2 separate regions of the Homo sapiens genome follow, and region 1 is reported to be linked to region 2. Evidence: microRNA targets listed by miRTarBase, many of them from high-throughput screens and not tested one by one. Region 2 holds a microRNA gene; the other region holds the end of a gene's coding sequence.
The links. Region 2 holds the annotated microRNA hsa-miR-135a-3p (UAUAGGGAUUGGAGCCGUGGCG, at 1,462-1,483, opposite strand). A microRNA usually pairs through its seed, bases 2 to 8, with sites in the 3' UTR of a target mRNA and lowers its output. Matches are read on the target gene's strand: a 7mer-m8 pairs with bases 2 to 8, a 7mer-A1 pairs with bases 2 to 7 and ends in A, and an 8mer does both.

Region 1: miRTarBase lists NLK as a target of hsa-miR-135a-3p. Seed matches in the 3' UTR shown: 7mer-A1 at 2,156-2,162.

What each region holds. Positions count from the first base shown.
Region 1 is chr17:28,194,353-28,197,352 of GRCh38, reverse strand. NLK (nemo like kinase) reads right to left here. Exons shown (of 11, transcript NM_016231.5): 11 at 972-2,771. The coding sequence ends at 2,717. Among named protein-coding and RNA genes, the nearest start is that of TMEM97, 120 kb to the left of the region's middle.
Region 2 is chr3:52,292,771-52,296,298 of GRCh38, forward strand. MIR135A1 (microRNA 135a-1) reads right to left here and starts at 1,538; the gene lies at 1,449-1,538. GLYCTK (glycerate kinase) reads left to right here. Exons shown (of 5, transcript NM_145262.4): 5 at 1-2,487. The coding sequence ends at 356.

The sequences.
Region 1 (3,000 bases), not on the chromosome of region 2:
GGATTATAGGCGCCCGCCACCATGCCTGGCTAATTTTTATATTTTTAGTAGAGATGGGGTTTCACCATGTTGGCCAGGCTGGTCTTGAACTCATGACCTCAAGTGATCTGCCCACCTCAGCCTCCCAAAGTGCTGAGATTACAGGTGTAAGCCACCATGCCCGGTCAGAATTTAGTTTCAAAATGATATGTGTTAACTCAAAATGCTCTCTTGTAAGTGATAAAACTGGTTTCCTTATCTAAGCATTGGTGATATTAATATGGCTTCTTGACAAGTAATTCTTATACTTAGTAAGTATTCAAAATTTTGTTGAATGAATAATAAATGTATTTATATTAATTTACATGAGTTAGAATAGTCAACTGCCTCAATGTCAGGAAAAAAAATCCATTCATTTTGCTAAATAAAAAAGATAGGGAGAAGTACACGCCACCTACAAACTCAAGAGTAATGTTGCTTTATCTAGCCTCAGGGAAAGTATTTTGAAGTCAGGCAGTCTGGTTTCAGGCCTTGATTACACCACCACTGGGCTGGGACTTCTTCCTTAGCTGAAAGTACCTTTGGGCTGCTAGAGGCAGGAGGCAGAAGTGAAGAGGAGGGAGGTGTCAAGTCCCTTTACCAGTCTGCTTCATACAGAGCAATCTACTTTTATGTATTTAATATATTGGACTCCAAGATATTGCTTCAAAGAAAAAAAAGTTTGAAAACCACTGGATTAGAGACTCCAAGGTCTAAAAAGACTTCTCTATTGTGTATATTTAAATCACATCTTTGATATTGATTTAACTAAATTTTCAATATGTTTTTGTCAATCTAAAGTTTTTGAGAAGATTTTTAAAAACAACCAATTTCCTCAAAGATCAAAGTGGAAATATAAATAGGAAGTGTCTCAAAACTTTGCAAAGTCAGGATACGAGCTGTACTGAAGAGAAAACAAAGGAAAGAAACTGAAATAAAACAGATGACACATCTTTTTCAAATGTCACATTTAATGTTTTCACCACTGTACTTCAAATCTACATTGTACAAAGTGACCAGAAAGTGTGCCACGGTAATTGACCAACCTCTGAGATTGTACCTTTCACACCAGTGTCTTCTTGGGCTCTTTTGATACTAAACACGTTTCTCATTCAAGTGAATTGAAATGCTTCAGTTGGGTTGATTCTCAGGAGCCTCATAAAAAAAAAACAAAGATATTGCACCATCTTTGTTTAGTAATTCAATGTTTGTTTCTTTCACAGCAAATAATTACTTCATTGAAGTTAAAACTTCCAAACATAACTTATTAATAGTCTTCAAATTCAGCTCAGATCACTCAAGTTGAAAATACTCTGCTAAATACAGATAACTTACAATAACTTTAACAGTTAATTGTCCATAACACACACCAAGGTTTTTTCCTAGACCAATTTTAAGACGATCCATTAGTATTCCTTGTACAGGTGAAAAATGATCTTCAATTTTCTTGTCTTTTTATTTTTAATATAAAAGTTGGAAGGGACATTCAAGTTTCAAGTCTCCACACTGAACTCAAAAAAAAAAAATAGTCATCATCAGCATGTGGAGGTAAACAAGCCAAGTTGTATAACTCCAGGAGGTAGAGGCCTTCGATTTGTATTCATATGTACATATGCACAGAAGAATTCAGTGTTCCAACAGAAAAAAAGAACTTGTCAAAAAGTAATAAGTTATTTACTACTGTGACATTTCAAGACTCCCACAGCTTTGCCTAAGGACACAAACACATTTGACATAATTCCCTATGTGCCTTTTTTTGTGGCTTAAATTTTTTTTTAAATTTGTTTTTGTCTTTTATTATTTTTTTACTGTCCAGTGCAGGAAAAGTCTCACAAAATTTCACAGACCTAAAATGTGCAAGCTAGTTCTCTTTCTATACAGCAATATTGGGATTCTTTTGAAATTAGCCCAGAAATGAATTATTTACACACATGAAAGATGCATGCTTGGGGTTCTTTTATGTAAGAAAGAGCAGAAAAACTTCTAATAAAAATAGATTAAATATATATATATATATTTATACTGGGTAAGGAAAACAAAAGTTTAGTCTCTCCTAGTCACAAACTCATTCTCTCTACCCACAACATTGGATTTTAGACAGCACACATCACCATCACGGCTCTAATGAGAAGCTAATTATAGGGCTTGATCATTAGGTGGCATGCCCCTCCTCCCTACCCTCCCCCCAGGTGCAGCCACGATCAGCTCACGTGGCTCCATGATTGGTCGCAGGCAAGGTTCCTAGATTCTTTAGTTTTAGAAAACCCCAAATCTTTAGGAATGGCTCAAATATCAAAATGTATGACTGTCCTTTGTGTTTGTGTGTGTGTGTGTGTGTGTGTGTGTGTGTGAACAATCTCACTTCATTTTAGAAAAGAAAAACAAAACATAAAACCCCAAACTCCCAAATTTGGTTCAATTCTCTTTTGTTCTGAGGTGAGCCATAACAGCTGCACTAAATTCATAAAACATGTGCAACTCTGGGTAAAATATTTTTCTTCTAAAAGCACAACCACTTTACAAGATTAAAAGTCTAGTAACATTTCTAAATATTATTCATATCATACAAGTAGTGGTTGTTAATTTAAAACTTCATTAGTAAAATTACAGTACAAGCATGATTAACCTCCAGAATTGCAAATCCCAGACTCCAGTGGAAAGCTACATTACATCTTCAGTAGTACATTATCTTCCACCATCACTCCCACACCAGAGGAGATGGGGGCATCTCAGATGGCTGAGCAACAGTGGAACTGGAAGAAAACAGAGATGGAGAAATTAGTTGTAATGTCACAATGGACAAAAGGGTAATTCACTACTTCCTGTTTTCCTCTCTTCCTCTGAAAAAATTAATTCCACTTCTGGATTTTTATTTGTTTCTTTGAAGTTGAATTTATTCTAAGTTGCTTGTTTATGGACCTGTTATCTATGGAGAGGCAATCTGGTATAGTGGCTAATATGTAGGCTTGAAAACCACATGTC
Region 2 (3,528 bases):
CTGGTGGCGAGCCCACAGTACAGCTGCAGGGCTCGGGCAGGGGTGGCCGGAACCAGGAACTGGCCCTGCGTGTTGGAGCAGAGTTGAGAAGGTGGCCGCTGGGGCCGATAGATGTGCTGTTTTTGAGCGGTGGCACCGATGGGCAGGATGGGCCCACAGAGGCTGCTGGGGCCTGGGTCACACCTGAGCTTGCCAGCCAGGCTGCAGCTGAGGGCCTGGACATAGCCACCTTCCTAGCCCACAATGACTCACATACCTTCTTCTGCTGCCTCCAGGGTGGGGCACACCTGCTGCACACAGGGATGACAGGTACCAATGTCATGGACACCCACCTCTTGTTCCTGCGGCCTCGGTGATGGCATAGGTCACATTTTGGGAGTTCAGAGGAGGCCTACAAGGGCAAGGTCAGATGGCAGAGCAAGGTTGGTCCTCAGGGCCTCTCTAAGCCTTAGGGCCCCTCCTCTCCTTGGCCTTGGCTGTTTGGTTAACTGTCACCTTCCACTCAGGGCCTCTGCTCTATATCTATTCCCTTCCAGCCAGACTGGCAGATGGGGGCTTCCCCCTACCCCTGAGGATGAGGACAAGCCCCTCGGCCAGTTCAGCGTTCCCGTGCTTCTCCCTTGGGCAGCCTCTCTCTTGAGCCCCTCACCCTGTTTCTTTCTGTGAAGCGAGAATGTCTGAAAATAAATAGGACCATGCCATGGGTTCTCAGTGCGCCTTCCCTCAGAGTGAGGCCTCACGGGGGAGCCGCTGGGAGGGGAGCGTGGTACGGCTGCAGCCACAGTACCAGGGCCTGGCAGGACTCTTAACACCCCTCTACTGGGCTGGGTACGTGCAGGATGTGCCTCGCATAACGGGAGCCTGTGCCCATCCCTCTGGAGTGTGTGAGGGTTGAGCTTGGCTCCTGACAGCTTTGATGTGCGTGAGCAGAGACCCCAGGGAGGACAGGCCTAAAGACTGCAGTCTGGGGTGACCAGCCACCCACCCACCCAACCATGACTCCACCATGGCACTGTCACCATGGCTTCTCCAGCCTCAGCTTGTAGGCCTCGTTGGATGGATGTCCTTTCTGTCTTTGGACAGCCCTTAGCCACATACTGCACTTCTGGTTGAGCTGAAGTTTGTCCCACCCCCCAGTGCTGTTTCCTTGTGACAGCCCTTGTCCTAGGCTGAACATCCCTAGTTCCTTCAGCCACTCCTCTGGGGACCAAGTCCAGACCCTGAAGTCAGCCCTTCAGTGGGGGTCCCAGCACTGGGATGGTGGGTCCAGCCAGTGATGAGGTCCAGTGACCCACACCTCTTCCTGTGACCACTGGCGGGAGAAGAGGCAAGTGGGAATAGAGGAACGGCTGTGTTGGCCTGGCCAGCAGCCTGGGTTGAGAGAGGGAGGTGCCACTGTCCTGCCTCCTTTTGAGCCCCCTTGCTCAGTGTCAGAACCCTCCGCTGGCTGTCCCCGCCGTGCGCCACGGCTCCAATCCCTATATGAGTGAGCAGTAGAATCACATAGGAATAAAAAGCCATAGAGAACAGCGAGGCCTGGGGCTGCTCTTGCAGGCACTTCTTCCACCCCAACCCTCCCCTCCTCCCTGAGGGTGTGGAGGGGCCCTGGGCCAGGGCTGGCAGGACTTTCCCCTGGGAAGGGTTTCCCTTCCCCACCTGGGCTCTGGGCAGCCTAGCTTGCAGACAGTTCATGACCTGGGGGCCTGGCTCACACAGGGCAGGCTGGAGATTGGGAGGGAGGTAAACGTGGTAAGCGGGCTCTGGGGACCAGGGAGGTTTAGGAAAAGGGGAGCTTGCACCCCACTGGGATGCGCAGGCACCGCTTCCTTTCCTTCTGTGCTGGCATGGAGTTCCTGCTGACTAGGGTCACAGTCTCTGGGGTTATGGTGATCCTCGCATGATCCTGTGCCGTGGTGCTCCTCTGGCAGCGTCTACATGTAGCCTGTTCCTGCCTCAGTCCTTGCTCTTGGGAGCATGAGTATTGGCACTGGGTTCCAAGTTCCAGGCAAAAGCAGGATAGGAGAGCTGGGGCAGGGGCTGCAGGAGCTGAGGGCCTGGCAGCCATGTCCCCAGTGTGTGTGTGGGTGGTAGGTGTGTGAGTATACAGACGTTGGTGTTGGCGTACTCAGAGTGGGAATGCATCTCTGAGTGTACACATAGATACTTAGTACAGGGCACATGACTCCCTGCATCCCTGCTGAGGGCTTTGGGTATGGATAGGATCTTGCAGGAGGTTCCCCCTGCTCTACATTGACCCCTTCCCTATACTTCTGTTTGTAGGGGCTGGGAGGCCAGGGCCCGGATTGGACCCCATAGGGCCAAATGGTCTGTGAGCCTAACCCGTTAGATTTGCTCACTGGATACCCCAGAGATAAGAAAGGATGTATTTGGCCACAGTCTAAATGCTGAGATGAGAAAACCCTGCACAGTGAATGTTTTGATAGGATTCATTACTTGCTCCATAAATGTCAATTTTGGATCATTGAAGTGCCCGTCCCTTGCTCTTGGCTTCTGTTTCTTCCGGCTGCTGCTGCCCTCGTGCCCACCTCATCGTCATTTTCTGAAGCTTCCCCTGGCCCAGCTGGAGGATTTCACCATGGAGGGTGTCTGGCCCTGCTGGCTATAGCAACCCTCACAGGCCTCTCCATTCTCTGCACTTGGCATGAGCCAAGAGCAGTGGGGCAGTGGGCCTGGGCAGCCCTTCAGTGTCAGCTAGTCCCAAGCGTTTGATTTATAGTTGGAGATTCAGAGAGAGAAGGTGGCTTACTGGGGACTGTACAGTCCCACATAAGGGCCACAGAACCAGGGTAAGAACCTAGTTGGAACCTGCTTGACTATCCTCTGCCACTCTCTGGGGCTCAGATACCCTGGGGCCAAGCAAGGGCTCAGCCAGATCCAGGGGATCTACTTCTGCTTCCCCACTGCCCCTCAAGGGCTTGGGATGGCGACACAACCATGCTTGGCCTCTCCAGGGATCCACACAGCAGATGTGTTGGAACCTTCTTGTCTCAGAGGGACAGCTCCATTGTGTGTGTGATTTGGCAGAAAACCATGCGCAGTTGAGTGGTGGGCTTCTACATAAATGTGTGTCTGCATCTGTATGCACATCTGTGTGTGTGTGCATGTGTGCGTGTGCATGAATATATGTATAAGCATGTGTATGTGTAGTGCAGCCCACAGCCAGTCTCTGAGCTCTGCTGTGCCCCATCCCAGGGTGGAGACACACAGGTGTAGTTAGAGTGTAGGGGATACAATGAGCAAGTTGGGCAAGAAGGCCCAGAAGACTGGCAGAGGCTAGTGTGCCTGGCCGAGGGAGTTGACTTCACATTGACATCAGTGGCAAACCTCATGAAGATTTTGGCAGGGAATAATGTCATGAAGCTGTTTTGGGACTTTAATGCTGAGAGCCAGCTTCCTTACAGCAGAGGGCGGGGGTTGGGGGCATGCAAGGAGATGGAAGGGGTTGCAGATAGGAGAGGTGCATTACCAGGCTCTGAGACCCTCTCCCACCTCCCCTATGCAGCCTCA